4 separate regions of the Homo sapiens genome follow, and all the other regions are linked to region 3. The links come from fine-mapping of genetic effects on gene expression. A gene starts in region 3. Each other region holds a variant in brackets. All regions are shown on one strand. Distances are between the middles of the regions. Region 1 overlaps CACNA1D (calcium voltage-gated channel subunit alpha1 D). Region 2 overlaps LOC105377094 (a long non-coding RNA gene). Region 3 holds the start of CACNA1D (calcium voltage-gated channel subunit alpha1 D). Region 4 holds the start of LOC124906242 (a long non-coding RNA gene).

What was found. PIP is the estimated chance that this variant, and not a neighbour inherited with it, causes the effect.
Region 1: its variant is fine-mapped to the expression of CACNA1D in whole blood (TOPMed, PIP above 0.99).
Region 2: its variant is fine-mapped to the expression of CACNA1D in whole blood (TOPMed, PIP 0.99).
Region 4: its variant is fine-mapped to the expression of CACNA1D in whole blood (TOPMed, PIP above 0.99).

What each region holds. Positions count from the first base shown.
Region 1 is chr3:53,700,508-53,708,459 of GRCh38, forward strand. CACNA1D (calcium voltage-gated channel subunit alpha1 D) reads left to right here. Exons shown (of 48, transcript NM_001128840.3): 9 at 2,134-2,303. Among named protein-coding and RNA genes, the nearest start is that of CHDH, 140 kb to the right of the region's middle. The variant C/A (reference allele first, on the strand shown) is at 3,332.
Region 2 is chr3:53,351,508-53,359,459 of GRCh38, forward strand. The region is part of intron 2 of LOC105377094 (a long non-coding RNA gene); the gene reads right to left. Among named protein-coding and RNA genes, the nearest start is that of DCP1A, 7.9 kb to the left of the region's middle. RefSeq lists a silencer at 1,735-2,029. The variant T/C (reference allele first, on the strand shown) is at 3,798.
Region 3 is chr3:53,490,687-53,498,638 of GRCh38, forward strand. CACNA1D (calcium voltage-gated channel subunit alpha1 D) reads left to right here and starts at 3,925. Exons shown (of 48, transcript NM_001128840.3): 1 at 3,925-4,547; 2 at 6,466-6,775. The coding sequence starts at 4,481. RefSeq lists enhancers at 3,374-3,873, 4,204-4,989, 4,990-5,774.
Region 4 is chr3:53,641,504-53,649,455 of GRCh38, forward strand. The region is part of intron 3 of CACNA1D (calcium voltage-gated channel subunit alpha1 D); the gene reads left to right. It overlaps LOC124906242 (a long non-coding RNA gene), which reads right to left and starts at 5,328. Exons shown (of 3, transcript XR_007095913.1): 1 at 5,213-5,328; 2 at 2,292-2,452; 3 at 1-2,145. The variant C/T (reference allele first, on the strand shown) is at 4,594.

The DNA.
Region 1 (7,952 bases), 210 kb after region 3:
ATTTACCTAGAGCTGAGTTATGTATTTCCCATGTGTCAGGAAACCCCGGAGGCCTAGAAACCCCAAACCATTCTCAGGGTGTGGTACATGTGAATGGCGAGACACTGGAGTCCTTACTTCTTTGAGACAGCAGGTGTTCTTTGGGCTGGGAGGTCAGAGCACGTGTCTGGGCTCAGATCGGCTCCTGCTCACTCTCTAGATCCACAAAGCCTGGCCTCCTTCCTTATTCACAGGGGGTGGAGTGGAGACTGACAGCCCTAACAGGACCAAGGATAGGTTCCAGGGAGTCTGGAAAGTGGGGTGATTTAGAAGCTATGAGAGGGATCCTTTCTTTTTCTTTTCTTTTTTTTTTCCTTTCTTTCTTTCTTTTTTATTTTTATTTTTATTTTTTTTGAGATGGAGTCTTGCTCCGTTGCCCAGGCTGGAGTGCAATGGTGCAATCTCAGCCCGCCGCAACCTCTGTCTGAGTGGGATTCTTTCTAATTGTGGGCAGAGGGTGGCACTTGGTGAGGATTCCAGTTTCTTATCTGAAGTATTAGTGTCACTGGGTGTGCAAGCATCTGTTCAGCCCCTCGACAGCCTAGAGTTAAGAGACGGGTGTGAATATGGGGTTAGTTTTGTTGTTGTTGTTATTATTATTATTATTATTTTGGAGACAGCGTCTTGCTCTGTTGCCCAGGCTGGAATGCAGTGGCATGAACTTGGCTCACTGCAACCTCTGCCTCCCAGGTTCAAGCAATTCTCTTGCCTCAGCCTCCTGAGTAACTGGGACTGCACCACCATGCCCAGCTAATTCTTTTTATTTTAGTAGAGATGGGGTTTCACCATGTTGACCAGGCTGGTCTCAAACTCCTGACCTCATGATCCACCCACCTTGGCTTCCCAAAGTGCTGGGATTACAGGCGTGAGCCACCGTGCCTGGCTGGGGTTAGCTTTATGAAAGCAGGTCACTTCCCCATTCGTGGGTTGGGTTGGGTTGAGTTGGGTTGGGTTGGCTTATCGAGGTAGGACCCTGAAAGAGACATGCTGGCTTTGACTCGGAACAAAGGCAAGAAGGCAGACAGAAGTAACCTGTGTCAGAATCTCAAGGTCTGTGTGCAGAAACTGCATTGCTGTAACCTCACCTGCTTCCTTGGCAGCTTTTTACTAAGTCTCTAACTCACATATCTTGGCTCCTATAACAACTCACGGTTGGAGATGCAGATGGTTCCTCATATATAAAAATTGGGTAATCGTCCACCTGACTCTCAGGCTTGCCTGAGTATGTGGGGTTTTGTATATATGCATAGTCAGAGGCTTGCACACATGGTGGAAAGTAGCATAAACACCCCACAATTGGGAACATTTACCTGTCTGCCAGATCTTTTCCAGGGCAGGTGTTCCTATAAATGGGCAGAAAATCATATGCCTCTTCCCCTCCTGCAGGGAAGACTTTTGGGGAAGACCATGACAAGTAGCAGGGGTTAAGAAAAACAGTAATGCTTCATCAGTGCTCGAGTTCCCATCTGGGAAGGGAGAACTGGGTTGTGGAGGGGGTGGGGACTGCCCTGACTCCATGCACTGCTCTGGCCCGAACCTGCAGGTGATGGGTAGAGGAGCCTAGTGTGGGCACCAGCAAGGACTGCTGCCTGCTCAGAGCTCTTGGTTTGGACAAAAGGGGTAGCACACAATATTAATGCAAAGTTTGTCCAAAAGCATTGAAGAAGTTCTAAACTTGGTACTCTTTGACCACAGCTTGGCCCATTTGGGTCCCTCCTCTTTGAGGAGGCTCTGGGGAAAGTGGGGCGTCTCTGAGTTCAGGCCCCTTGTTGGGGGGTGTCAGAGGCCTGCCATGACAGCACATGGTGTTTTGGGCCTAGGCCCCTTGAGATCGCTGTCATCGAGGGGAGTTCATTTTCTAAGAAATGATGCATGTGTGTTGGTGTGGGCTCTGCGACTCTGACCCCCATAGTCTTGCTTTGGAAGACACTGTCTTCTGTCCTGTCCAAGTGTGTGGCTCCATTGCTGTGCTCATGTGACTATACTCAGTGCTGTGTGTCCTGCCCACAAGACTGTTGTGCAGTAGGGCAGTGGCTCAGGATGCAGGTCCCCAAGGATGTCCTGATATGTGCTTGTCCTCTTTGCCTCCTTCAGAGAATTCTCAAAGGAAAGAGAGAAGGCAAAAGCACGGGGAGATTTCCAGAAGCTCCGGGAGAAGCAGCAGCTGGAGGAGGATCTAAAGGGCTACTTGGATTGGATCACCCAAGCTGAGGACATCGATCCGGAGAATGAGGAAGAAGGAGGAGAGGAAGGCAAACGAAATAGTATGTAGCGCCTTTCCTGCCCCTGGCTAGACAGACCCAGTGTGCGGTTCAGACGCCTAGCAGTAGGCCTTCCTCGACTCTGACCCAGGCTGTGAGTGGGACAGCCTCCTCCCAGCCATCTGGTCCCTTCTGCCTGCACACATCACGGAGAGAACAGGTGCATTGGTGCTGACTCTGGATTTCTGCCTGAGGTTTGGGGTTTAGAGTTGTATTTGGTAAGGTGGCTTTATAGCCAAGGAAGGTCAAACGGACCCACTGTTGGCCTGGGAAATTCAGTAAGCGCATTTCTGTGCGGGCACAGGGGTGATGAGACACATATTCTTGTACCACAGGAGAAGAAGCTGTGGTTTCCCTCACCTCAGAGTGAACAGTGTTATTGGACAAGAATTTGAAGTGCAGGGTTCCTCTTGACTCTTACTCTTAGGCCACCTGACATGGCTCCTACATGTGCTATTCATATGAAGCCATATGCTTAGCCCATCAGGGGCTGGGAGGAAACCGGCTCACCATTCTAGGCAGGTGTTAAGGGGCACGTGAGTCAGTGACAGCTGCTTTGCTGTCACCCATCGACACCCCACACTGTGACACTAAGCACCCTAGAGCACCTTCTGCAGGAGGCAAGGCCTGAGAACTCAGTCCATCACTGACATTAATTGCCATTGTCAACCACGGTGTCTCTTTCACTGCATACTTTTCCCACAGATGCGCTCTTATTCTCTCTGGGGCCCTTTGTGCCTCGGGTCAGAGTGGAAACTGGAATCCAGCAATGCATTTGACTGAGATGTCTGTGACTTGCTTCAAATCTAGAAGAGTTGGATAGGAAGGACCAAGAACGTACTTCAAGTGCACATGTCCATTGAGAGGCCTGGGGACCCGAGGCCGGCCCTACGTTGTAGAAGATGGCCGAGCAAGTCCCTGCTTGAGCAGAGCGCCTTGGATGTTTTGCTCTCAGCAAGGCCTGTTGCTGGGTACAGGGGAAACCCAGAGCTGGAGAGGATGTGGAGTGCTGCCTCCTAGGGAGAGACAGG[C/A]CTGTCACACTAAATGCAGCCCTGGGGAGCAGAGCTGCAGGGCACACATAGAGGGCAGGCACCGCCGACGAGGGATCGAGGACAGGGCTGGAGGGAGCATTTGGCCTGGGCCCTGAAGGATGGATGGATTGCAGGTGTGACCATTCAGTGTCAGAAGAAGCACCCTGACCCAGGGGACTAGCGTGAGGGAGGCGTGGAGGTGGACAAAGGCCAGGTTTCAGGGAGGAAGCAGTGGGCCCTTCAGCTGGAGCACAGAGGGTATGAAGGTCGGGGTGAGCTGCCATAGGAAGGGTGGGTGAGGTGCAATTGTGCCTCTTCTGGAGGTTGTGGAGTGTGTAAGTGGGGGCTGAGAGACCCCTGGTGGAGAGGCTTCTTGACTGAGAGGGCCCTTACCTTTCTTCAAGCCTGGGCTCTGTGCCTCCATGGGGAGGGAGTGTGTTCCGTGATCTCAGATGCCCTGGCTGGTGCAAACCAGTGTGCTGACTGGGAGTGGGCAGGGTCAGGCCTCTCTTCTCTCCCTCCCTGCTTCTTGCCAGGCTCAGGAAGGGGCCAGGACTTTAGCACCTGAGGATCAGAAGACTGAGGGAGGGTTTCTAGAGCTAACTGTTTGCTGAATGCAAGTTCAGAGTTTATAAATAGACATTCATGTGAGTCTCAGACTCAGCGATGTGCCTATGAAGTGATCAGATGTAAGAGTGTCTGCCTGTCCTCTGCACAGCTCTCCCCTTGGCAGTTGAGCCAACGTGAACCCCATGGCTTTCGTGGAGCTTCTGCACCTGCAGTATGGCAACAGGCCATGTAGGTGCAGCTTGGAGATGCCTGCACCGCTCTTTTCCCCTTCACTTGCAAACTGTAACTCAGATGCTGACCTGCCCCATCTCCCCTAAACCCAACATGTTATTTGTAAACGAGAGGAGGTATGGCCCCTTTTTCTCAGCAGAGTGTCTTTCTTTGCTAGTTTAGCTGTGTCCCCCAGGGAGCTGAGTGAGGCCTTCTTACAGGCCAGTGGCCTTTCCTCTGTTTATTTCTCCTCCTCTAGAAGTAGACAAGGTTTCGTGTTCTAGTGTTGCTAACATTAGTCGTGGTAGAGTTGTTTATAGGGCCTATGATTTGAGGATTAAGGGTTTTCATTGGATTTAAGGTGATATCTTGAGGGTTAACCATTTTATCTCAGCCCAGCATTTCCTATGACCTATCACTGTAAAAACCTGATGATGACAGAAATCAATGACTCTGCCTTTCAGAGAACTTGCCATGAGGGGAAGATGGAGAAGGAGTGGCTTAGTGTGAGAAGCTGATCCCATTGTTAAGGCCCAGCACTCTGCTGTGTGAGCCCAGGAGGGCGCGATGATTCTGGCTGGTGGGAGTGGGCAGGCTGGGGCGATGTGAGGAAGGCTCCGTGGGAGGAGCAGCCCTGGGCGGCAGAGGTTGGGGGTGGGGGCTTTTTCAAGCTGGGGAAATGGCACAAACAAGGTGTGCGAAGTGACAAATATTCAGGGCCCTTAAGTGCATTGCTCAGTAATATAATCTAGGAAAGAAACAAAACCTGTTTAAAAGCCTTGTAGATCTTCAGAATTCACTCTCACTGGGGCTCCCAAGCCCATAAAGCTGCAATGTGTCTTGGGAACATCAGCAGTATTGTTTCTGCTATGCACCGTGATGTGTGACTCAAAATGATTAACTAGCTTAACGTTTGATCCAGAATAGCAAATATTTCTGTGGTGCGCCCTTGTTCTTTATGGAGCTCGTTTTGCCAGGTGCTGGGGTTTCCTGTGGAGTGAGGCTCACAGTGCTTCCCGAGTCATCAGATTTCCAGAGCCTTGCTGATGAGGGTTTTAAATAAAGACAGAAATCTTGGCTGTGGAGGCCATGATGGGATTTAGCTGACTTGAGAGCACCAAGTCTCCTCCTCCTCTGAGGAGAGAACCTCTCTGATCACAGACCTCAGCAGCCCAGACCCTCTGGAGGAGACAGCACTGTTGAGGTTTCCCTGGGGCCTCCTGTGGCTGCCAGCCATTTTCTTCCTGTCACAGCCAGAAAACCACACAAGGAGAGGGTTTCAGTGAGGCCCACATGGTCCTCCTCACCAAATAAACAGTCCTGGATTCACCACATGCACATGCCAGGTCTGGGGCTGTCTCTGTGCATCTGATTAGCAGGCAGTAGAAATGTGGGTGTTGCCAGTGTTACGGTGTCTGCATCCTCCCTGGGGGTGTGAGATCACCCCACGTGCCTTCCACTCCAACCCTGCTCCTCTGTTACCTCTTGAGAGGAGGATGGCGCAGGGCCCGGGCTCCTGACTTTGTCCATAATGGCTAAGGATGCTAATTCAACTGAGAGCCCTTTTCAGCTGGGTCCTGGATGTGAGTTGAGCAGTTTCCTCCCAGACCTTGAGGATTGAAGTGACAGTGTGAGAAGAAATGCTTCCTGATAGCCGAGCCTCAGCCTAGATGAGCAGAAGTGGGTGTAGGAAGTCATTAATAACAGCAGATGTCTGTGAGCTCACAGGAGGCAAAGGCTTGGGCTGGAGGGCATCTTGATGCCCCTTCTCCGGATGTGGCTGCAATGGAGTTTTGTGACTTGGAATTTGGACTTTAGTATTAGGCAAATTACTCAACCTCTCTGGACCCCACTTTCCTTGTCTGCAAGAAGGGGATAAAGATATATCTCCCCATGGGGCTGTTGTGACAATTGAACGTTCTGTGACTGCTAGGAGTAGTCATAGTTGTAGTATGTGCTGCTGCTGTTTTCATCAGACACCAGTAAAAGTTGACCTCAACAGAATTTTAGGGGTATAAATTTAGGGGGTACAAATACCGTTCTGTGACATGGACATATTACATAGCGGTGAAGTCTGGGCTTTTAGTGTAACCATCACCCGAAAAGTGTACATTATACCCAGTAAGTAATTTCTCATCCCTCATGCCTCTTCCACCCTCCCACCCTTCTGTGTCTCCAATGCCTATTATTCCATCCACACCCTATGTCCATGTGTACACATTATTTAGCTTCTGCTTATCAGTGAGAATATGCAGTATTTGACTTTCCTAAACATAATATTTTTGAAGGTTCTCCTAGACCGCTAACCAGCCTCAGGGTGGGGCCTCCCTCTTAGGACCATTGCCCTGTGCTTTTCTGTTCAGAAACTATAAAGTTCTGAAGTATTGATGGAAAACAAATCTGTTAACTAGGTCACTTTCGAGATAGGGCAGCACAGCTTTCAGGCTCTTGAAGTCCATTTCTAGTTTGGCGGTGCTTGCTGTCAGGGAACAGATGTCAAATCAAGTACTTGGAGATGCGCTCACATTATCTTTTCTCTCTGATCTGCTAAATGTCACTGCATGCGTCTGCGATGCCCAACACTGGCTGTACGTTATAATCACCTGGGGAGCTTGGATGCTTCTTGATGCCATACTCCACCCTCTAAGACTCTTGATTAATCTTGGGGTGGGAGCCAGGGGTGGCTCTTTTTCATTAAGGTTCCCTGGGGATTCTAATGTGAAGCTAGGGTTCAGAACTCCTGAGTCCAGGATGCTATCAGTGGCTGAATATCACACTGTTCCAGGCATTCACTTGAAAGAAGAGGAGAGGCAATCAGGCCTCTAACTGAGCTGTCTGGTGACTGGTGACAGGTAGCTCCAGCTTTGTGCATTCATAGAATATTTAAAATGTCAATTTCATAAATTTGCTATTAGAAAGCTGGTGTTACACAATTAACTGAATGGACAAAATTCCCTTTGAAGTGAGTTCCTGAGCATTTGGTAAATTTTCAAGGATAATTTATTTAACTTTTTGCTGAGCTTCAAGTTTCTTAAGAAACCCTGCCAAATCTCAAAGTGATTTTTTTAGACATATGCAGCTGCTTCTGAGTTAACAATGGAGTTTTGCTAGGACCATTAAAATCTGGAAGCCTAAAATTCTATTTTAAACTCTTCTCATTGTCAGTGATTAGTCTTAAAAAAAAAAAGCATTAAAAATGAAATCATTTTAAAGGGAGCTCATTCTAAAATTCTGGCCAGAAAAGCAGGGCAATTTTATTGTAGGAACTATTAATGATTAATAATTCCTCTAAGTAAAGATATTTGATGCCCAAAGAAAGGGAGGGGCATACCTGAAACTTCATCTCTGACCACAAGGGCAGCCTCTCTGTCTTCTGCTTCTTCAGTGGTCCTGGAGGCTATGGGCACTGCCCCTGCCTGCCCGGGGACTCTGCCACCCTGGGGCTTGGTGGAGCAGGTTGCCCTAGCTGCCTCTCTTTTGCATGTGCTACCTAGTTGCCTCTTACTGCAATGTTTGCTTTGGGGGTGGACAGAAAACCAGGACGTTATAGCTGGTTGCAAGCATAAGGCATAGCAATTTGCTGGTCCTGTTTTGAAAGACTGTGTTTTGAAATTTTGATTTACAAAACTGCTTTCATCACCATTGAACTACCTCAAGGCACAAGTTCAAAATGGAAGATACTCAAGTAAAAGCTGTAAAGCAAACAGCAGCAGTTAGAGTGGCATACGGTAAATATGCGTCCAGGTCAAGAGCCCTCACTGGAGAGGCAGCTGGAAGTGCTTTCACTGGGAAGTGGGAGGGCTGACTCAGGGGCTGGCCCTAGGGTCAGTGGCTGGACACT
Region 2 (7,952 bases), 140 kb before region 3:
CTAGGGACTCCTATCTTCTACCCTGGGATCCTTTCCTACACGCCCCAGATGCCTTTCTTCCTTCCAGTGGCTGGAGGTAAGAGCCCTATTCCTCTCTACTTACCTTCAATCTGTTTTAAAAATCCGCACCCTAATTTTTAAAAATCTGCACTTTAATGTTTAAAAAACATACATTCATCTGGTACAAAATTCAAAAGGCACACCTGAAACTTAGTTTTTTTTCTTACATAGATTTCCTAAAATAATCGAAGACATTTCATTTTAATTTACTATTTTTGATTGAGCAGGGCTAGCCTATTAAAGAACACCAAGTTATTTTAGGGAATTTTCATATTTGGAATAGAAAATTACTCTGGGCCGGGTGCGGTGGCTCATGCCTATAATCCCAGAACTTTGGGAGGCTGAGGTGCGCGGATCACAAAGTCAGGAGATTGAGACCATCCTGGCTAACACAGTGAAACCCCGTCTCTACTAAAAATACAAAAAATTAGCCAGGCATGGTGGCGGGCGCTTGTAGTCCCAGCTACTCGGGAGGCTAAGGCAGGAGAATGGCGTGAACCCGGGAGGTGGAGCTTGCAGCAAGCTGAGATCGTGCCACTACACTCCAGCCTGGGCGACAGTGAGACTCTGTCTCAAAACAAACAAACAAACAAACAAAAAAAGAAAATCACTCCGAAATACATATTTGCCTGCCTCTAAACATGCTCTGATGCCCCATATAGCTCTTAGGACATATTAAAGATAATATGAATATTTTGGACTTGAAATTCATCTTCATTTATCGTGAGGCCTAATTTTGCCTTATATTTGTGAGTCAAACCTTAAGACCTTTCTTGTGTCTTTAGACAATAGACTCTGAGAGGGCAGAGATGGCATCTTAGTCTTATTAGGTCCCCAGTACCTAGCTAGCCCAGCTCCTAGCATAGAGTAGACTCTCAATAAATATTGGTGATTGAATGTCCTCTTGAAACCCAACTACTTCCAGGCCACACAAAACACTACTAGGAAGGAGGGGAGGAAGCTGAGTGACAGAGTTGGGAAGGAGGCTCTATTCTAGACACAATAACCTACAGTCACTTTGTAATCGCCCGACGTGTTCTTCCTGCCTGCTGCACAGACAAAACCAATTTACTGAGACCATGGTATTACAGTAGAGAAAGAGTTGTTTTTTTTTTTTTTGGAGATGGAGTCTCGCTCTGTTGCCCAGGCTGGAGTGCAGTGGCATGATCTCAGCTCACTGTAACCTCTGTCTCCCGGGTTCAGGCAATTCTTTTGCCTCAGCGTCCCAGGTAGCTGGGACTACAGGCATGTGCCACCACACCCAACTAATTTTTGTATTTTTAGTAGAGATGGGGTTTCACCATATTGGCCAGGCTGGTCTCAAACTCCTGACCTCGTGATCCACCCGCCTGGGCCTCCCAAAGTGTTGGGATTACAGGCATGAGCCACCACACCCAGCTGAGAAAGAATTTTATAAATGCAGAGCTAGCCAAATGGAAGGATTAGAGTTATTATTCAAATTAGTCTTCCTGAGAACTCAGAGGTTAGGGTTTTTATGGATAATTTGGTGGGTAGTGGGCTAGGGAATGCGTGCTACTGATTGGTTGGTGATGAAATCATAGGGGTGTGGAAAACTGTCCTAATGCACTGAGTCTGCCTCTGAGTGGGGGCCACAGGACTAGTTAAGTCATGAGTCAGGGTCCAGGTGGGGTCACTCAGTTGCCAGAATGCAAAGTCTGAAAAAATATCTCAAAAGACCAATCTTAGGGTCTACGATAGTGATGTTATTTATAGGAGCAATGGAGGAAGTTACAAATTTTGTGACCTCTGGCCACATGACTCCTGAGCAGTAAGGGATTATAGAAACTATGCCTTCATCTTAGCAGAATTCAGGCCCCTCCCCTAATCCTAATCTCATGGCCTTTAGTTAGTTTTACAAAGGCGGTTTCAGTCCCTCATCAAGGAGGGGGTTGGTTTTAGGGAGAGATTATTATCATGTCTGCTTCCAAGTTAAACTATAAACTAAATTCCTCTCATTGTTATCTTGGTCTGTGCCCAGAAATGAGCAAGAAGAGCCAGCCTGTGAGGCCAGAAGGAAGATAGGGTCAGCCATGCTAGACTTTTCAAAGTGTCAGAAACTTTGCAACAGTGGTTTCAACTTTTTTTTTTTTTTGAGACGGAGTCTCGCTGTGTCGCCCAGGCTGGAGTGTAGTGGCATGATCTCCACTCACTGCAAGCTCCGCCTCCCGGGTTCACGCCATTCTCCTGCCTCAGCCTCCTGAGTAGCTGGGACTACAGGCGCCCGCCACCACGCCTGGCTAATTTTTTGTATTTTTAGAAGAGACGGGGTTTCACCATGTTAGACAGGATGGTCTCGATCTCCTGACCTCGTGCTCTGCGCGCCTCGGCCTCCCAAAGTGTTGGGATTACAGGCGTGAGCCACCGCGCCCAGCCAGTTTCAACTTTTGAGGTGTGTTCCATGTATGTCAACTTGTGTGTGTGTGAAATTGGGTCTTGCTATATTTCCCAGGCTGGCCTCAAACTTCTGGGCTCAAGCATTCCTCCCACCTCAGCCTCCTGAGTAGCTGGGGGTACAGGTGCATACCACCATGCCTGGCCTATTTTTTTTTTTTTTTTTTTTTTTTGAGATGGAGTTTCACTCTTGTTGCCCAGGCTGGAGTGCAATGGCATGATCTCAGCTCACAGCAACCTCTGCCTCCCAGGTTCAAGTGATTCTCCTGCCTCAGCCTCCCGAGTAGCTGGGATTACAGGCATGCACCACCATGCCTAGCTAATTTTGTATTTTTAGTGGAGACGGGGTTTCTCTATGTTGGTCAGGCTGGTCTCGAACTCCTGACCTCAGGTGATCTGCCTGCCTTGGCCTCCCAAAGTGCTGGGATTACAGGCGTGAGCCACCATGTCCGACTTGGCCTATTTTTTAAAAAATTAAAAATAATTTTAAAAAATGAAAACCTAAAACCCAATCAATCCAATCCCTCCTCTCCCCCAGTTGGAGTGGCTTTGTGGTAAAAAATCAAACTTGCCACTTTACATCGTGGGATCTAAGGGAAAGGGCACTGGAATTCAAGTCGGGAAATCAGTCCTTTAGTTCCTAACCTACCAGCTGTGTAACTTTTTCAGTTAGTCGCAGGCTTTCCATTTCTCCAGTGTAAAATCCAAAGCCTTTAACGGGTCCAGGAGATACTGTTTGGTCTGCCCTCCTGCTGTCTTTCCATTTCCATTTTCTATGAATTGTCCTCTTAATTATTTCACACTAGCCCACTGGCCACCTTGCTGTTCTGTATATTACAAAAGAAAAAAATTACAACAAATTTAGTTTAAAGATCAAATTGGCTTTCATTTGTCATTCTTGAATTGGGTATATAAAATAGAATGAGTATTCCAATGAGCTGATCAGAGGAGGTTGGCTTTACAGGCAGAGAAGGGCTGAAGAAAGCTGAAACAGGAAACAAAAAGCAGATTGGTCACTTCAAAGTTAATTTCCTTATAGTGTTAGAACAGAGAAACTTCCTTATGCCAGCTCAGGTAAACTAGGGCCCTTCTGATTGGTTGCTGTAAATCTCCTGTTTTTGGAAAATGGGCCCTTTTCCGAGTTCAGTTGGATTATGTCACTTAGCACAAGTGACTCCATTATGGTTTTGTCTGGTCTGCTGGGGCCTAGTGCAGGAGGCTAGTCCAAAATAATGGCCTCCCATACACTTTGCTTAACAATGCCAAAGCAGTCTTATCTCAGGTCCTTTGTACTTGCTGTTTCCCTTTTCTGAAACATTCTTCTT[T/C]CTGTTATTTCTTAGATATCCTCATGACTCATTTCCTTCACTTTCTTCATAGCACTTATCTGCAAGTTGTAGTTATTTATGTGTGGTCTGTCTCATTCATTTGATGAAGGTAGGAATCATGTCTGTCTCTTTGACCATTACATTCCCAGTACCTGGCAAAATCAAGGCCTAACATACGTATCTCTTGAATTAATTGGAATGTTAGGATGCTCTCTCTTCTTCTGTTGCATAAATCTTACAGAAGGGATGGTGATTTCAACTCCACCTCTAACAAACCATTTGTTTTTCATGAGTGCTAATTAAATAATAATGCCTGATTTACTTGTATTAATATATTCTCATTCTGAGGCTTTATGCTTCCTGAAGCAAACATATTGTTTTTAGTGTAGCCCAGAACAATCTTCAGCACCTTTTCAATCTTACAAGTTTCTCCATTTCCATTCTCTTCTTCTCTCCCCGCATTTCCCCTCTTCCCTGCCCTCCTTTACCTCTCCCCCTCCCCACTCTTTCCCTTTCCTCTCTCCCTCTCTCTGATTTTTTTTTTTTTTTTTTTTGAGACATAGTCTTGCTCTGTCACCCAGGCTGGAGTGCAGTGGCCCTATCTCAGCTCACTGCAACCTCCGCCTCCCTGGTTCATGCCATTCTCCTGCCTCAGCCTCCCAAGTAGCTGGGACTACAGGTGCCCGCCACCACGCCTGGGAATTTTTTTGTATTTTTAGTAGAGACGGGGTTTCACTGTATTAGCCAGGATGGTCTCGATTGCCTGACCTCGTGATCCTCCCACCTCAGCTTCCCAAAGTTTTGGGATTACAGGCGTGAGCCACCGTGCACGGCCTCTCTCTCTGATTTTTAAAATTTATTCTGGAAGTATCCGCTTATTCCTGTTCGCCTTTTTGGGCCAGGAAACCAAAGCTAACTAATTTTCTCAGGGTCATATAATGATTCATCTGCTGAGTTAAGATTAGCATCTTCTAGCCTTGGCTTCCAGGTAGATCACGTATCTTGCTACCATGCTGCCTGGCAGGCTCTTAAATTACACTGGCTACACGTGAGTGAAACTTGTTATCCTTGTGCTGCTGTTTCACCACTGATATTTATTTTTCATGATTGATCCAAAAGATTGTGGACTTACTGTAAAATTCATTCCAGGTCCTTACCAGATATTTGGGACAGTAATGCTTTCTTTCGGTTTCTCAGAAAGGTCTCAGAACTTTGTATTTTAAAATGATACTTTATATTTTTAAAGGTGCTTGATGTTCTCTAGAATTATACTTCTGAAATGTGAACTAGTTTAGTCTGTCAGTTCTGGAGCAGAAATGCTTTCAATCAGAAAGGAAGAAATAGCTGTTCCATTTGGAGTAATGCACCTAGAATATAGGAAGGTAGGACTAGACAGCCTTTAGATCATCCCTTTATTACCAGGCAAGACTTTGTAACATAGTGTTCTTATGATGTTCTTAGGTAGAAAGTATTATGTTTTTTACTGTTACTTAACTCAGTGTAATGTTTCAAATAGCAATAGCACAGCAGTGGCATAAACAATAGCAATATAGTCAACGGATACACTGCTTATCCATGGAGCTCAAAGTACTTCCTAGGTATACCTATTCACAAGCTCTCAAAATAGATATTGGATGTACATAAATTGTTGCCCATTTGCAGATGAAGGAGTTCAGAGGTAAGAGGAGATTAGCTGACTTGACTGTGGCAGAGCTCTTTTGGGTTCACAACAATCCTTTGATCCTTCCCCATTGCATTGGGCACACAGCTAGGCTTCATTTCCCAAGCTCCTTTGCATTAGGCATGGCTCTATGACCCAATTCTGGTCAGCAGAATATTAGTGGAAAAGCTGTGTGCCATCTCCAGTCCCAGGTTTGAAGGAGCATGTTGTCTCTCCACACTTTCTTATTCCTTTTCTGTTGACTGGGTGCCGCAATGGTGAGACCATAAGGAATGGCAGAGCCAGGATTGGAAAGAGCTTGGACCTTGAATCACCATACTGAAGAGTGTTGCCTGATGACCAGACTATCCTTCTCAGACTGTTATGTGAATGAGAAACATAGCCTGTTGACTTTAAGAGATGATGAACTTTGGGGTCTCTTTGTTACCTCAGTGAAGCCTATCTCAGTTAATTACACCGCTCCAGATTGTTTAGAAAGTCAGCAATAAAACTTCAGCCTTCAGAAATAGAATTAAAATTAAGCACATGATTTACCAGAACACACTGCTTAGTGCTTTGACAATAAGTCAAGATTTTAAAAGAACTCCAGGCATAGCTCTGCATTTACAATCAGTTAGAGGCACAAATTTGCAGAGTCACAAAGTGGCTAAAGACCAAAAATGTTTTTGTCTATACCATTAGGCAATTGATTTTGCAATTGCATCATGAAGTAATCTGCTAAGCCAAAATGGGAGGTTGTCATTTAAAATGCACTTTTCCATGAGAGTTCCACAAATATGCTCAGAGTTCCTTTAATCCTGCCTTTCTTTTCCCCTCAGGCATACGAAAATACAAATATTTCTTAGACCAACAAAATAAGAAGAGTTTGATTAAAGGCATCTGTCCACTTTTTCAATTCTGAACACTGCAAGCTTCTTTGTTGTTTCTGCAGAAGTACCAACAGAACCTATAGACTCTTTCTGTTCCTGATGCTTTCTGTATCTTCCCAGTTTCAGTTCTAGGGTGCCTCTAATCTTATATTACTATTATTCATTCACAAATATTTATTTATCTGGCAAAATTAACGTAGTAATAATAATAATAATTCTTTTTAGAGATGGGGGTCTTGCTATGTTGCCCAGGCTGGAGTGCAGTGGCGATTCGCAGGTGTGATCATAGTGCACTGCAGCCTCCAACTCCTGGGCTCAAGTGATCCTCCTGCCTCAGACTCCCAAGTAGCTAGAAATACAGGTGTGTGCCACCATGCCTGGTTCATAATGATTTTTACATATGCATTTAATTCATTTAATAAGTTGTTTTTCTTTTTTTTTTTTTTTTTTTTTTGGAGATGGAGTCTCACTCTGTTGCTGAGGCTGGAGTGCAGTGGCACCGTGTTGGCTCACTGCAACCTCCGTCTCCTGGGTTCAAGCAATTCTCCTGCCTCAGCCTCCCGAGTAGGTGGGATTACAGGCACCCACCATCATGTCTGGCTAGTTTTTATATTTTTAGTAGAGACAGGGTTTCACCATTTTGGCCAGGCTGGTCTTGAACTCCTGACCTCAGGTGATCCACCCACCTCGGCCTCCCAAAGTGCTGGGATTACAGGCATGACTACTGCGCCCGGCCTCATTTAATAAGTTTTAGTTCCCTTGGATCTGCAATTTGATTGTTCGATGACCAGGGCATACTGATAAGCTGTTGAACTCCTATGGATCAAAACTGCACAGAAACACCCAGAGGAATGAATTATTTATCTTCATTGTATCCTCCCACTTTGAGGTAAAACCACAGTGTTACATAGTTAAAGGGTTCAGTTGCTTCCTATTTTTTCAATTGAATGCTATCTTAATTTAGGTCTCCAACATGTGGTCTACTTGGGGCAAAACCAATACAGGATTCATTAGGAGTCTTTCTTGTGTAAACCACTCATTATATGATTTGTGGAATAATGAACACAGTCCAGATAGTGGACTACATTTATGTTATTTTTGGTAAACTTAAATTCATTTATCCTGAGGGCTCAAGTGTTGAAAACATTGTGTCTTTTCCCACTCAATTGCACTTATAGAAATTAGTGTTAAACAAGATATATTGAAAATCACTCCGAATTACTGAAATGCTATAATTTAATGAAGATTAACTGTCACAATATGAAAAACCATTCACTCATCTGTATGTTGCCTGCAGCCTTGAATTTAAGGAATATTACCTGTAGCGGACCTTGAAGGAGATCTTAATGTTCATTATCTAAAGAGAAGGGCATAAATTATGCTTTGCTATTAAATAAGCATCAAGATAATAGAATAACCAATTTTTCTTGCATAATAAAATTGTTGCAACTACTGTGATAAAAGAGGTTGAACTGGGTGAGGAGTGGTCCTTTTTACATTGCTCAAGAACACTAGAAGAATTAAAAATTTATGAATTACCTCCTAGAAACAATGATCTGGGACGGAAATGTAATAAAACACCCACTCTCCTGTGTCCTCCTAAGC
Region 3 (7,952 bases):
TTAGCAACATAATTGGGTTGTAGCACATGTAGCTGATTTAGAGCTGAAATCTTTTGTTTTAGCCTTTCCTCATGTCTTGTTGGCTCAGCTACTAAGTAATTGTGTGTGGTTTTGGGCGAGCTACTTAACTCCTCAGTGTCTTGGTTTTGTTGTCTGTAAAATGAGTTTTGTTTTTTTTTTTTTTTAGAGTTTTGCTCCGTTGCCCAAGCTGGAGTGCAGTGGCACAATCTCTGCTCACTGCAACCTCCACCTCCCAGGTTGAAGTGATTCTTCTGCCTCAGCCACCCACGTAGCTGGGACTTAAGGCGCACGCCACCATCCCCAGCTAATTTTTGTAATTTTAGTAGAGATGGGGTTTCACCATGTTGGCCAGGCTGGTCTCAAATTCATGGACTCAAGCCCGCCTTGGCCTTCCAAAGTGCTGGGATTATAGGCATGAGCCACTGAGCCTGGCCAAAATGAGGGTTTTATAGTACCTCGTAGGCTTGTTACGAGAATTAAATGAGTTAGTACATATAAAGTGCCTACCCTAGAACCTGGCACACAGGAAGCCTTTAAAAGATCTTATTATTTATTTATTCAGTAGTTTGCATTATCATGGGAATATAAATATTTAAATTACCCAATGGGCCAACGCATCTAGAGCTGTGCTGAATCAAGGCCCTCAAAAAAAAAAAATGCTTGCTGGAGACATCGCCAAGATGAGACTCATTCAGAAACTGGGATGGAATGTCAAAAACTCCAATTCAAGGCTGAGCAGTGGCTCATGCCCGTAATCCCAGCACGCTGGGAGGCTGAGGCAGAACTGCTTGAAGCCAGGGCTTGCAGCTTACAGTGAACTATGATCACACCACTGCACTCCAATCTGGGCAACATAGTGAGACCCTGTTTCTAAAAATAATTATTTAAAAAAAAAACCCCAAACCCTCCTGCAATACCATAAACTTGTTAAGATCTAACGCACAAAACCTGGAGACCGAAACCACAATTTAATCATGTCACTTTTGAGCTAAAACAACTTCACTGGCTCTCACTGCCAAGAAATTGAATCTGGTCTTCTTAGCCAGCCAGCCTTCCTCCACAGATTTGGGTTGGCCTTTCCAGCCTCCTCCTCCTCTAGCCCAGGGGGTCTTTGCCTCAGCCACACTGTGCTCCTGCTCATTTTTAAACACACCCACCTTGCACTTCAGTCTCCCCTGTGCCTTTGCTCTTACCCCCAAAGCTCATTCCTCATACATCATTTATGCCCTGTAAAAGTAGTCACCTGTTTTTAATAGACTTTATTTTTTTTAAGAGCAGTTTTAGGTTTACAGAAAAATTTTGCAGCAAGGACAGAATTCCCATATATTCTCTCCCCCAACAGTTTCTCCTATTAACATCTTGCATTAGTGAGCTACACTATATACACAGTTATAACACTGGTACACCCCAGTGTTATAATTGATGAACCAATATTGTGGTACTACTATTAACAAAAGTCTATAGTTTGCATTAGGGTTTATGCTTTGTGGTGTACAGTCCAACGGGTTTTTGACAAACGCATAATGTCCTACGTCCATCATGGCAGTATCATAAAGAATAGCTTCACTGCCCTAGAATTCCCTGTATGCCACCTATTCATCCCTCTTTCTCCCGGTCAGTTTTTAAGAATCAGTTCAAATGCCCTCTCTTCTGTGAAAACATCTCAGTTCCCTCAGTTACAATTAATCTGTCTGATGCTTGTATAGCGCTTTTTCATACTTGTTATAGCTGCTATGTTTGCATGGTATGAAAGAAGTATACACGGCCGGGCGCGCGGTGGCTCACGGCTGTAATCCCAGCACTTTGGGAGGCCGAGGCAGGTGTATCACCTGAGGTCAGGAGTTTGAGACCAGCCTGGCCAACACGGTGAAACCCCGTCTCTACTAAAAATACAAAAATTACCTGAGGGTGGTGGCGCGCGCCTGTAGTCCCACCTATTCAGGAGGCTGAGGCAGGAGAATCTCTCTTGAACTCAACAGGCAGAGGTTACAGTGAGCTGAAACTGCATCACTGCATTCCAGCCTGGACAACAGAGTGAGCAAGACTCCGTCTCAAAAAAAAAAAAAGTATACAAACTTTTCTTCTGTCATTAGGTTGTCCTTGAGGAAGGAACTGTGCCATAGATTTGTCCTGACATCTAGACCAGACCCTTATTCTTAACCGGTGCCTTATGAATGCTGGCTGCACTGAACTGAACAATGAGCAAATATGGTTCGGCTCAGTCATCCACTAGATACAGTATTTTTCCCTCTAGACAGGAGCTGCTGTTTGCAAATCTCCCCCATTCCAAATCTGAGCCAGCAAAGGTATCATAAAACAAACTTGCTCAGGGAATTTTGTAGAAAAGGCCTCAAGAGGCAAGGCTTTAGACCAGGAGTTCTGAAAGTGACATGTGTACTTGTGAATTTCATACATGCTCCTTGGATGGGCTAGTTTCTTTGGAGGGAACCGTCTTCTATTCCCTTCAGATTTTGGATCAGAAGCAGCCATAGGAGAGGTGGCCCAGGCCAGCTTTATATTGTTACTAGACCGTAGGGCGATTTCTCGCCTCTCCAGTCTCCAAAAACAAAGCACAAAAAAGGACAAGAGCCTGGTTGTTTTCATCCTCACGGACCAGACACCCCCTCAGGAAGGCCTCTGGAGAGTCTTCTGTCTGGTCCCCAGTCTCTCTGCCCAGGTGCCCCCCAACAATTGAGGATGACTAGTGTGTTCTCTTTGGGTAAGGAGCACCTTCCCATAAACACTTATTTTTCTTAATTCACGCTGAGCTTTTACTTTATTTTCGCTTTAAAGTCACTGTTCTGAAACGTTCTAAAACGCCGTAGGAACATGCAGATAGGAACAAAAGCAAATAAATCGAATCCTGTGAAGTAACAAAGCAGACGCCCTTCTCCTAACAGGCAGCACAAAGCTAAATGAAAAATATCAGTCATCCACTAGATAAAGTATTTTCCCCTTTAGACAGGAGCTGCCGTTTGCAAATCTCCCCCACCCTAAATCCAAGCCAGCGAAGGTATCAAAAAATAAACTACTCCCTTCAGCTCCCAGACTGGAGGCAACAGTTTCAGCAGCACCGTCTATTTCCTTGAACAACACGAGCGGTTTGAAAGACCTTGGCTTTGACTTCCCTGTACCTGCCTCCAAACACACGTGGGGGCGGGGTGGGGTGGGGGGAGATATTGCCCCCCATCCCCGTTGCCTTCCGCGACGCCAGGCCAGGCGCAGGGCAGGGGAGAAGATGGGGGGCGCCCTGGATTCGCGGTTCCAGCTGCAGGCAGTTACCTGGGGTAGTGAGTGCTCTCTACAGACCCGGGCTACCCCAACCCCCCCGATTCCAGAAAGGGCCGGAGAAAAGCAGGGGGCGCCTGCCCCGCTCCGGAGCAGCCAGGGAGCCCGGCCGAGCCTTGACGAGGATGAGCTCGGAGACCGCAGCAGCTACCGCCCGCTAGCACCTGAGCTCCCAGGGGGCGGGGCCTCCTCCAGGTGTGCGCAGAGGAGGCCGGCGCGGAGTCGGGGCCGGCGCGGGAGCCCGAGCTGTCCCCCAGCCCAGAAATGCGCGGGGAGGAGCGGTTCATCCGCACCCCAGCGCCGCGGGAGACACTGGCGCCGCCTGCCTCCTCCGGGTCCCGGGGGGAGAGCGCACCGTGCGGCGCGGAGGGGGTTAACCGGGCAGCCCGCCGCTGGAGCGCGCTTAACCCTTTGGAGCCCGCAGGTCAGCCGGGCCAGGCTGGGGTGGCGGCACCCCGAGTCCCACGCGACGGCCACCCCGAGCGCGCAAGTGGTGCCGGGCAGAACCGCGCGCCGGGCTGCAGACCCGCCGGGGCGCGGCGCGGCGCGGGCCGTGGGCGGCTCGGGGCGGGCGGAGGGCGGGGGACGGCGGCGGGCGCGCAGCGTCGCCAGGGCGAAGCCGGCGTGCGGCGCGGCGCGGCGGGCGCGGAGCGAGCGGGCGGGCGAGCGCCTCCGTCCCCGGATGTGAGCTCCGGCTGCCCGCGGTCCCGAGCCAGCGGCGGCGCGGGCGGCGGCGGCGGGCACCGGGCACCGCGGCGGGCGGGCAGACGGGCGGGCATGGGGGGAGCGCCGAGCGGCCCCGGCGGCCGGGCCGGCATCACCGCGGCGTCTCTCCGCTAGAGGAGGGGACAAGCCAGTTCTCCTTTGCAGCAAAAAATTACATGTATATATTATTAAGATAATATATACATTGGATTTTATTTTTTTAAAAAGTTTATTTTGCTCCATTTTTGAAAAAGAGAGAGCTTGGGTGGCGAGCGGTTTTTTTTTTAAATCAATTATCCTTATTTTCTGTTATTTGTCCCCGTCCCTCCCCACCCCCCTGCTGAAGCGAGAATAAGGGCAGGGACCGCGGCTCCTACCTCTTGGTGATCCCCTTCCCCATTCCGCCCCCGCCTCAACGCCCAGCACAGTGCCCTGCACACAGTAGTCGCTCAATAAATGTTCGTGGATGATGATGATGATGATGATGAAAAAAATGCAGCATCAACGGCAGCAGCAAGCGGACCACGCGAACGGTGAGCAGCCAGAGCCCGGGCACCCGCTGCCAAATCCGATCCTGTCATGGTCCTCCAGCCCCCTCCCCCTTCCCCGCGGCGCTGGATGGGTTGAGGGGGTTGGAGAGGGTGCTGCCAGCTCGGTGTCGTCTACACAGAGAGGGGACATGCGTGACAGCCACTCCGCGCTCCCCTCCAGGCCCTGAATGTCAGAGTTAATTCTGCATTTGTGGGGTGGGGGCGGCCGTGGAGTGTGTGGAGCGCGGTGCAGCCGGAGGGGCGGCGAGTCGGGGTGATTCGGGTTCAGTGTCCTCGGGCTCAACTTTCCTTCAACGCCCCCGAGCGATGGCAGGAGGGCCGCAAGTCTTCAGCCGGAGCCCCCTTGCCAGCCTCTTCTCGCCTTCCACTCCTCCCCCGCCCCCTCGTTGACTAGGAAGAAGGTCCCTGGTGGCATCCGGAAAATTCTAGGATTGCCCGGTTTCGCCCTCCGCGCCGGTGGGTGAAGCACACCCATCCCCTCGCGGGGGAGGCCCGGCCTCGGTATCGGGGAAAGGGGTTCGGGTGGAGCGTGCGTTCCCGCTCCCGTCGCCGGCTGTGCACACGTCGGTAACCTAGCAATGCCCGGGGAGCCGCTGCCGCTGTGGGGCTCCCCTCCCCAGCTCTGGCCCGGGCACCACGTGCAGCTTCCACGCCGGCCGGGGCTGGGTCGAGGGAGGATGGAGCAGCTCCTGGCCAGCCCTCCCCTTTGGAGACCGCCAGTGCCCCCCAACCCCTGTCGGCTGGAAGCCTTTCCGGGTGAGCGCTCCCCTAGGGAGAAGCTTGACATGACTCGACTCGTCCCCGCTCCGATTGCCCGCCGCTCGCCCGCTTTGCCCTCTTCTCAGGCTTTCAGACCCGTGCTTGCTTTGACTCTTTACTTAGCAATAATTGGCTTTGCAAACGCCCATCTCTCTACCTTGCTGTCACCTCTCTCACTTCTGCTTCAGTGAGGAGACTGTGGCGGAAGGCGGCAGGTGCCTGGGAGATCTGCCTGGGAGATGGCCTGACCCAAAGCTGGCGGGGGCTTCGCATAGGGAGCCTCCTTGAGTTTCTGCCTTGTGTGCACCTGGATACCAACCTACACGGAGATAATTCCCTCTTAGGCCTGGAGGCCCCTGGCATAATCCAGTCAGTCTATCCTAGGTGTAGGGGTGCAGGCTGACTGCCTTGTCTGTCTCTCTGGATGCTGGCTTGGCTGATGCTGCTGCAATTTAAAATGCAAAAAAGCCCTAAAGATGTTTTCTGTTTTCGGAAGCCTGTGGAGGAAATGAGTCCCAAGCATCATGAATTTTCATTTGCAGGAAGTGTCAGTGCATAATCTAGATATTTGTTATGGGGTTTTTGGTATTGCCTGGGTGCCTATGGAAGATTTTTTTTCGGTACTGAAAAAAATGCATTTGTGGCTGTGGAAAGATGTTGGAGTAACACTCTGAAAATGATTAAGACTATTGAATTATTGGTACTGCCTTTTTTTTTCCCCTTGGTGATGGTGGTAGTTATGTTAGAGAAAAGCTGTTGTATGTATCTGTTACTCATTAGAGATAGATGGGTTTTACAAATCAGAGATGCGGAGTAAATGTGGGAATGACCTCAGTTTTGTCAGAAGAAATGCACTAAAAGACCCTTTGTGAAGACATGATGTGAAGGAGTACTAACCCCACTGGGTGTGATGCAGCGGTGATCCTGTGTGATTGACACTGAGACCAGAGCTCGTGGACTTTTCTTGACTCTCCAGCTGACTAAAGCCCAGCTTGTGAAAAATAGCACATGAGATTCAAAATGGAAACATAGGAGTGAATGATTCCCCTGTTATTGATGGGAGACAACCTTTGATTTTTTTCTCCTACCCACTGGATCCTCATTTAAAAAAAAAAATCTTTGTTTTTCTCCTTCTCCCCAGAGGCAAACTATGCAAGAGGCACCAGACTTCCTCTTTCTGGTGAAGGACCAACTTCTCAGCCGAATAGCTCCAAGCAAACTGTCCTGTCTTGGCAAGCTGCAATCGATGCTGCTAGACAGGCCAAGGCTGCCCAAACTATGAGCACCTCTGCACCCCCACCTGTAGGATCTCTCTCCCAAAGAAAACGTCAGCAATACGCCAAGAGCAAAAAACAGGGTAACTCGTCCAACAGCCGACCTGCCCGCGCCCTTTTCTGTTTATCACTCAATAACCCCATCCGAAGAGCCTGCATTAGTATAGTGGAATGGAAGTATCCTTTTTTTGGGGGAAGTCTTTCTCATTTTCTCTTTTACCATCTGTTTTTTAAAAGGATTTGCTTTCTGAAGTGACACAAAGCTGTAGCAGTCTGGAATGCGAGTAACAGAAGTTGTATATAAGGGGTTTCATTGTATATACCTTCCTGTCTCTTCGGGTTGCAGAGGGGTGGCTGTACGGGTATATTTAGCCCACTGTCTGGATGTGTGTATAGTAGTAGTAGTAGGGGGAGGGAGTGACAGCCTGAAACTTCACAGGGGCAGATAATTAAAATGTGAAACCAACCTTTGGTTATTGGACATTAGATGGTTAGTTTTAAATTCAGTGTTGTCTTTGGGCAATAGCATGCATTGAACCTATTGCAAACAAGGTATACAGATTAGAAAAAAAGACTGTATAAGACTCTGTTTGAAGGGAATACATTTTTGACCTTTAGTAGAATCTTCTCATTCTGATGTTTGAAATTTGCTTCTGCAACTACAATTAATGCTAAGGTTGCTTCTAGTCTGACATTTGGTGATTCTAATTATTCAGGTAGCTGCAGATATGAGCACATGCTTCCTAGGGAGAGATTACTTTTGATTTTTTTTCTCTGATCAGTGCTATAACTTCCTGGAATTTCCTTTTGACAAGTTCCAAAGAAGCATTTGGAACGTGAGCATGAGGGAGCCAGTGAAGGGAGAGGCTCGTGTGTGCCTCTTCCTCCTGGGCCCTTATGAGTTATAGAACAGCCTTTTCAGTGGAGGAATTTGCAGTTGCTGCCTTTATAAAAAATTCTGTCTATGTCCTTGGACTGGAGGTACATTTCTGGGTGTCTCCTTTGTATTTTTAAAATTGAACTCCAAATGCCCCAGAATGGCTGTCATGTCCCAGATCTTGGAAAACGATTGTGCTTCAGCCTGCTTAACCCCTTCCCTAAATCTGGAGGCCAACCTCCAGTTACTGCCACTCTTCAGAGAAGGTTGACTGAGGCCTTCTTTCTGAGCAAATGGCTTTTTAATTAGGCAGATGATTCATTGGTCTGGGTAAAGTAAAGCATTTCCTTTCCCCAGAAGTGTGTTTGGAACTGTCAGGGGCCTTAGAACAGTTCCTAACTATAGGAAGGGGTGTGAATGTAGGAATTCCCTCCACCAGGCCCAGAAGGATGGAGGGGCCACACCAAAAAGGGAGGA
Region 4 (7,952 bases), 150 kb after region 3:
GAATTGAGCTGAAATAGGGTCCCTGAACTGCCAGGCGAGATGGGATGGAAGTGGGCAGTGCCTTAGAGGTGAAGCTGGGTGCGGAAGTGGGAGGCTGCCAAGCATAGAATGTACCCTCTGCCAAGGGAGCTCAGAGTCCATGTCCCTGGGATGCACGGGATGGGAAGGAAGGCAAGTCTGAAGCGTCAAGTTTACAAGAGTGTGCACAGCACAGGAAACCAGTTGAAATTGAAGATGGCAACAGAGAACGGAAAAGATTGAAGGAGGGAATTTGGAAAGCTGAGCCTAGATGAATTCCCAGAGGCAGTGACTTATAGGGCTCGGAGGCCCTGTGTATAGGGAACCACCGCTGAACCTGTGGGTCAGAGGGAGTCATCAAAGATGTTGTCTCTTGAGAAATGAGGAGCTACTGAAGATTCTCTCTCTCAGATACCTCAACATTTTAGAGACATGGAGTGATCCTACAGCCCATTGTATTAATATTTAGGTGGGACTCCTTCATTTGCAGGTGACAAAAACTGAACCCAAACTAGCTTAATTTGGTGGCTTTTATAACTGAAAAGCCCAAATGGGGAGGGGAGGGGAGAGAAGGGAATTTTTGACTTCAGGCTCAACTTGATCCAGGGATGCATACAGTGGCCTCAGGGCCAGGTGCCTGCTTCTGAGTTTCGCTGGCTGGCTGGCTGACTGGCACACTTTCTCTTCATTTTTTGGCTTGGCTTCCCTTGGTGGGTGTTAGCTCTTCATCTCTATGTCCCCCTGGCAACTCTAGGCTTGTGGTCTCTCAGGGCTGAATCCAGCCAACAAAAGAACTTCTTACCTAGTTACCCCAGGGAAAGCTCCCAGACTTGCTCTCTTCGGACCCGGTTGGTGTGGGTTGGAGCTTATGCCTATCCCCGAACCAATAACCTTGGCTGCATGCCAACTCTTATTGCCCCTGGGATGAGAGCAGGAATGGAGCAGTTCCTGGGGGAAGGTCAGGGTGCTGTTACCCTTGGAGTTTTGCTGGGTGGCAAGGCCATCATTACTGCCCCATCCAGGCTAACTGTTGTAGTCTTGGCAGCAAAGCAGAAGCTGCCTTTGCTCTGCCGGTGAGGAGGAGAGCTCCCTGCCAGCCTCTGCCGCCCCAGGCATGCTGCTGCCCTCTTCCCACAGACCGCATGTCCTTGAAGCTGGGCTCCGTAGAGTGGTCCACCAGGTCACCCTGCTGGCCACCTCCATTTGTCATCCCTGGGCACATTCTAGACAGCATCTTGGGCCAGGGCCTTGCCCCACCTGGGTGATTGTGGGGTCACTGAACTGTCGTGGGATCTCAGGAGAAACCTCTTCAGAGAGTCTGCATCCACAGGGAGAAGTGTATTCACACTTCCCACAGGCTGGGGAGCTGTCTCACCTATCCTTAGTCAGGGCGAGCCTTCCATTGTGAGGTGCTTTATAGTTTGCACAGCTCTATCCAACTTGTTACTTAATCTGGCTTTTACCATAACACTGGTGGGCAAGGCAAAGCAAGAATGATTGTCCCTGTTTTATGGATGAAAGAACTGGGAATCAGGAGGGGTAAATGTCTCAAACGGGGCAACACAGCTGTCGAGACTAGCATTAGACTTGGGGGACACAAATGTCACATAAAATGTGTACTTTTAAACCGAAGGTGAAGAAAGATGAGGGCAAACAGACTACTGTAGCCAGTTTCTTCATGTAAATGTGGTGTTAAATTACCCATTGTTGTTCCTCTAAGTGCATACTTCATTAATACCTGCAGGGGAAAAAATGACCTCTATTTACAGCCAAGCATCTCTGAGCCGACGCCTGCCTGCCCACCAGCCTCCTGTGGTTTACCCACCAAAATTTTACTAGAGGTTGAATCGGCTTGTAGAAGCTGTGTGATAGCGCTGCGGCTCCCCTGGGTCACCTCCTGAAACGTGTAGGGTCGTGAGTGGGAGGGTGTCTCAGCAAGCCCAGCCTGAATGTGCACGATGGCCTCAATCGACCCAGCCACTTGAAAAAGCAGCCGCTGCTCTCGGTTCTTGCTGTTCTTGCTTGGTCAGCTCTTCCCTGGGGTCTCTGCGCCCTCACAGAGCCTCCCTGTGAAGCCTGTCCTTGGAGACTTTGCTCACCAGGTCATAGACAATTGTTGTTTTCCAACTGGAAGAGATCATCTGATTTAGTCTGTTCATTTCACACATGAGAAACGAAGACCAAACCCCGTACCGTGGCACCTGGGGCCCTTTGTGTCTGCCCTCCACTGTGTCCCTGCAGCCTGTCCCTTCCCTTCCCACCTGTCCTCATACCTTGTGCTTCAGCCATGTGGACTGCTCTTCGCCCTGAACAGCTTGCCTTCGTGCAGGCTCCTCTTCTGGATGGAACACCCTGCCTGGAGCAGGGAGGGCCATGATGAGGGAGCAGGTGGCTGTGCTGAGCCTTTCCCTGACATGCACTCATGGATGTTTTCCTGGAACAGAGCAAAACCAGGGGGCGCTGGTATCATAGAACTTCTTAGTGGGAAGGGACATTTAATAATAGTTGGTCAAAACCTCTCATTTTGCCCATTTATTTATTCATTTATAAATGCGGAATATCTATTTTTGTGACAGGCCTTGGGAATGCAATGATGCATGAAATAGAAATGATCTCTGGCTTTAAAGGAATGATAATTTATTAGGGGAGACAAATATTAAAGAGGCAATTTTTAAAAATTGACAAATAGCTACATAATTAGGGTGTACAACATGATGTTTTGATATATGCATACACTGCGGAATGGCTAAATTAAACTAATTAACATATCTATTACCTCACATGCTTATTTTTTTGTGGTGAGAAAATTTAAAATGCAGTCTTAGCAATTTTCAAGTATGCAATACATTGTTGTAACTATAGCCACTATGTTGTACAATAGATCTCCTGAACTTACTCTTTCTAGCTTTTGTATACTTTGAAATTTTTTATATGTTGATCAACATCTCCCCAATCTTCCTGACCCCCACCTCTGGTAATCATCATTCTTCTCTCTGCTTCTGTGCGTTCAGTGTTTTTAGACTCCTCATATAAGTGAGATCATGCAGTATTTGCCTTTCTGTGCCTGGCTTATTTAGCTTAGCATAGTGTCCTCTAGGTTCACCCATGTTATTGCAAATGACAGGATTTCCTTCTTTTTAAAGGCTAAATAGTATTTCATTGTGTATCTATACCACATTTTCTTTACCCATTCATCCATTGATGAACATGGAGGTTAATTCCATGTCTTAGCTATTGTGAATAATGTTATGAAGAACATGGGCGTGGCAGACATTTCTTTGACATACTGATTTCATTTCCTTTGTATATACATTCCCAGAAGTGGGATCACTGCATTATATGGTAGTTCCACTCTTAATTTTTTGAGGACCCTCTGTAACTGTTTTCCATAGTGGCAGTACTAATTTACACTCCTATCAACAGTGTACAAAGCTTCCCTCTTCTCCATATCTTTGCCAACACTTATCACTTGTCTTTTTGACAATAGCCATTCCAATGAATGTGAGGTGATGGCTCATTGTGGTTTTAATTTATATTTCCTTGATGATTAGTGATGTTGAGCACTTTTTCATGTATCTTTTGGCTATTTGTATGTCTTCTTTTGAGAAATGTCCGTTCAGGTCCTTTGCCCATTTTAAAGTCAGATTGTTTTCTTGCTATTGAGTTGTTTGAGTTCCTTATCTATTTTTGATATTAACCCTTTATCAGATGAATGGTTTAAAAATATTTTCTCCCATTTCATAGGTTGTCTCTTTATTCTGGTGGTTTTCCCTTTGTTGTGTGTAAGCGTTTTAGTTAGATGCCATCCCATATGTTTATTTTGGCTTATGTTGCCTGTGCTTACAGACTCATATCTCAAAAATCTTTGCCCTGTCTAATGTCAAGAAGCTTTTACTCTGTTTTTCTGTAGTACTTTCACTGTTTTAGGTCTTAATGTTTAAGTCTTTGATCCATTTTGAGCTGATTTTTGTATATGGGGTGAGAGAAGGGTCTGATTTCATTCCTCTGCATGTGGATGTCCAGTTTTACCGTACCCCTTATTGAAGAGACTGTCCTTTCCCCACTCTGTATTCTTGGCACCTCTGTCAAAGATCAGTTGACCATAAATGCCTGGATTTATTTCTTGGCTTTCTGTTAAAGAGGTAATTTTTTAAAATTTAAATTTCTATTGTGAATTACGGCTGTGGAAAAGTATAATGGGCTTTGACAGCATGTAACAGCAGGCTCTAATTTTGTCTGGGAGGTCAGTAAAGGTTTTGCTGAGAAAGTGTCATTTAAGCTGAGCCTTGAAGGGCAAGCAGAGTGTAGTCTGATGAGAAAGAGGGTTGGGGAGACTGTTTTAGAAAGAAGGGAACAGGATGTGGAATGGTTCCACTGTGGCCCAGGGCCACAGCATGAATCAGTGGCTGAGTTGGGACTAGCAGAAATCAGATCTATGGCTCCAAGCCCTGTGTTCCTTGCATTCAACCCCGCTGGGTGCGTTTTTGGCCCTGTATCACAGAGCTCTATGCTTATTCATCTAAAGAGGGAAGTTCATGTCCATGGGGCAGGCACCCTTGGTGGATAAAGCAGGGA[C/T]GGCAAAGACATGGAGGTGGGAAGGTGGCTGGCATGTGTGGGAGGGAGCAGGTTGGCCCATGACTTGGAGTGAAGCACTCTGACAGAGGAGAGGTGGGAAAGTTGGAAGAGGAATCTAGGCAAGGATGAAAGGATGAGATCCTTAACCAAGAAGCTGCAGGTTGGGATAGCAGGGGAGGCCAGGTGAGATATTGAGATCAGCTGTTGTCCTAGCAGTTTGACTCTTTATTTCAGGCTTGTTCTAAAAAGGGTTTATGGTAACTTAGATACATACATATGTATCCTGTTTTTTGTTTTTGTTTTTTAAATACATATGCTAGGATCATAAAACCTCATGCTGTAATAGCCTCTACATGTCTAGATCTATAGCTTTATTCCTTTCGGTTTTTTTCTTCTCTGCTTTCTAGTAGCACCTATGAGTGCCTTACATATGTCTGATGCTACAGTTAAAGACACAAAGAGAGGGCCCCTTTCAATAGAGAATCCAGGACTGCAGGGCACAGAAGGAATGGAAGGTGTCAGTGGGAGAGGGGGACTTCTGGCAGAGTATAAGCCAGAAAGCCTTCCCAAAGCCTTGGGGCACATGGGTGGAAGAGCAAAACAGAGAAGTGACTCTTACCTGGCTGCATCAAGCCTCTGTTCACCTTTTGACAGCAGCTTGGGAGCTCTGTGAGGACAGGGTTCTGGCTTTGCTGAGAAGGATGCAGGTGCTCGGGGATAGATGGATAGACAGATGGACAAGTATTCATGCCACAGCACTAATAAGAGGATTCTTAAAATAGGAAAGGAAAGTACCAAGTCTAATGAAGGATTTTGGCATCTCCCACCTCCTGCTAGTTGACAGTTTCTGTTTCTCAAGATTCTGTACAGCATTAACTGGTTTGGAGATTATTAACTAGTTTAGAGACTACTGATTTAGAGCCTCTCCTGTTGGTGAAATTTCACTGTTTAAAGAAGACACATCAGGTTTTAGAATTAGATTTCAGCCTTTGTTTCTCTAGTGGCTTGAGTTCTCGTGGGCGGGGTAGGGGGAGGGAGTGGGGGGACATCCGTCCATATACAGGGTAGTTTCTGGACGTTGTTTTCTAAAGGAAGGTTTGACTGGCCCTGCCTACTCAGGATCTCCTGCCAGGGAGAAGAAATCCCTGCTGGTGGGTGACTGAGTGCCACAGGTGTGACTCTGCCTGGCACACAGAGGGGGATGAGATGCAAGAATCATTTACTCTTTCCCTGTACCTGGGGAAGGGCTGTTAAGGTACAGCTCCTGCTCAGGCCTTTTATACCAGGGACGCCTCATTTCATGTATGGTTCTAGAGGGTTCCTGCTGGCCCCTTCTTCTGCCATCCCAGTCTTTCATCCTTGACAGTGCTTCTTCCTCTGTGCTTCCATCAGTCGTGGCCACAGACCTCAGTGTCCTCTATGTGTCACCTCTCACCTAGCTGTTTTGGCTGGGCCCACAGTCCCACCTTGCCTGTTAGGAACCTGACTTTCTTGTTGGCTTCCTTTTCAAATTGTTAATTCAACATTCTTTTCTCAAATGAACAATCCTTTTGTAAGGCGAATAATTATCCCACTTCTCCTGAACGACGTTTTGCAAGATTTAAAAATAATACTTCATTTGTTGAATGTGGAGGGATACCTGTTTCATAGGATTCCTTTTTAGTGGCAGGATTGAGGACCGGGATGACATTGGCTTCTAGACAAACTGGTCTGCCTGCTCTCCAGGCTGTGATTGTTCAGTTGGCATCATGGTAGAATCTCTGTAATAAAGAATTGCATTAAAGGAAGTTTGTATTTCTTATGAAGAATCCCATCAAATAATTCACTAAGGATTTTGGAAAGAGAAACCAAATTCTTTAAAAAGCAGGGAGAGGGCAAAGGAGAAGGAAAAAGAACGTTAAACAGTTCATTTATACTAATGGCCCTTGTGTTATTGTGGCAAAATTTCTTCTAAATAAAAGTCAGAGAGGAAAAACAAGCTTTGTTTGGGAGGTGTACTGTCTGTTCTCTGCCTTGTTTTTCTGCTCTGAAGTATAGTGTGCTGTCTTGACGTAGGTATGTAACTGCTATGAATATTGATGGCAGCAAAAGCTTTTTTTTTTCTCTCTGGCCTAGTAAATAAAGCAGCAAGGATAAAAAGGGATGAATTGTAAAATCAGTGTGCTGTTTTTAGCTTCTCTGGTTCCCTTAGAACTCTTAAGTCTCAAACATATTGACAATCTGCCTTTGGTGGTCAGGGTCTGATGTGAGCACTGTGGGTTGGCATTTTCAGGGATTTTTGCCTCTGGTTGAAGTAACAGAGTTCCTTTTTCTTTGAGCTTTCAGAGTTAATGTTATGGCTTCATTGAGGCCTTCCTGTATCTTTCCCTCTATCCAGTGGCAATGCTGGTCCCTGCTCCTCAGAATACCGCAGTGGCCTGAGTGTGTGATCGTTCCTCCAGCAGCCACGCCTCGCATGCCTCCCGAGCAAGCACTCCTCTGGGGGATATGGCAGGGAATGGGGCAACGGGGAATCTGGACAGTAAGCAAGGAAGGGCATCCTCGTAGCTCTGAGCGTGGCATTTCATGTAGCTGTATGAAGGGCATGGGGGAAGAAGGCATGGGGGCATGGGATGAGCCTGGCTAAGAACAGGACTGGTCTGAAGTCTAGAGGGGGCATGAGTATAGAGGTTGGAGATGAGCTAGGCTTTCTAAATTAAATTATAAACACACTGATGCTGGCTAACTCTCAAAACACACACACACACACACACACACACACACACAATTCGTTCACTAGACTGTTATAATGGTGTTCTGAGGAGCAAAGGGAGCTTTGGAGGGCAAGTGTTTAGAAATGACAGGAACCACAACAGCCCTGTCCTTGGAAGGAAGCCCTGTTATATGACCAGTGAAGAGTGGAGAATGGGGGCAAAGACTGGGATGCATGGCCATGGCTGCATGGTGGTCAAGAGGGAGGATACCTGTGGCACGACAAAGGGATGTTCTGCCTGGCACGGCCGGTGACAGAGGGGAAGCGATTCTGGCAGCAGACAGCCGGAGCCCAGGGGCAGCACAGGCAAGGCTTCCATTTAAATGCACAAGGGTGTTGGGGATACTGCAAGCAAACATTTAATAGGTGACGGTTCCTCAAAGGGTCAGGCTTATGGGAATCATCCTAAAATTTGTGTTTTTAAAAATGTTTCTGAATATAAAGTGTTCTCTTCAGAAACATAAAATTTATTTTCAAATACACATTTGCCTATTGCATAAAAATATATAATAGTGATAATATATAGCAAAGTGCTTTTTTTCCCCCTGGAATCCGTTGTGAAAAGGCAGGGGTGGCCTGATGGGAGGGCTGAAGATAGAGAATCGCT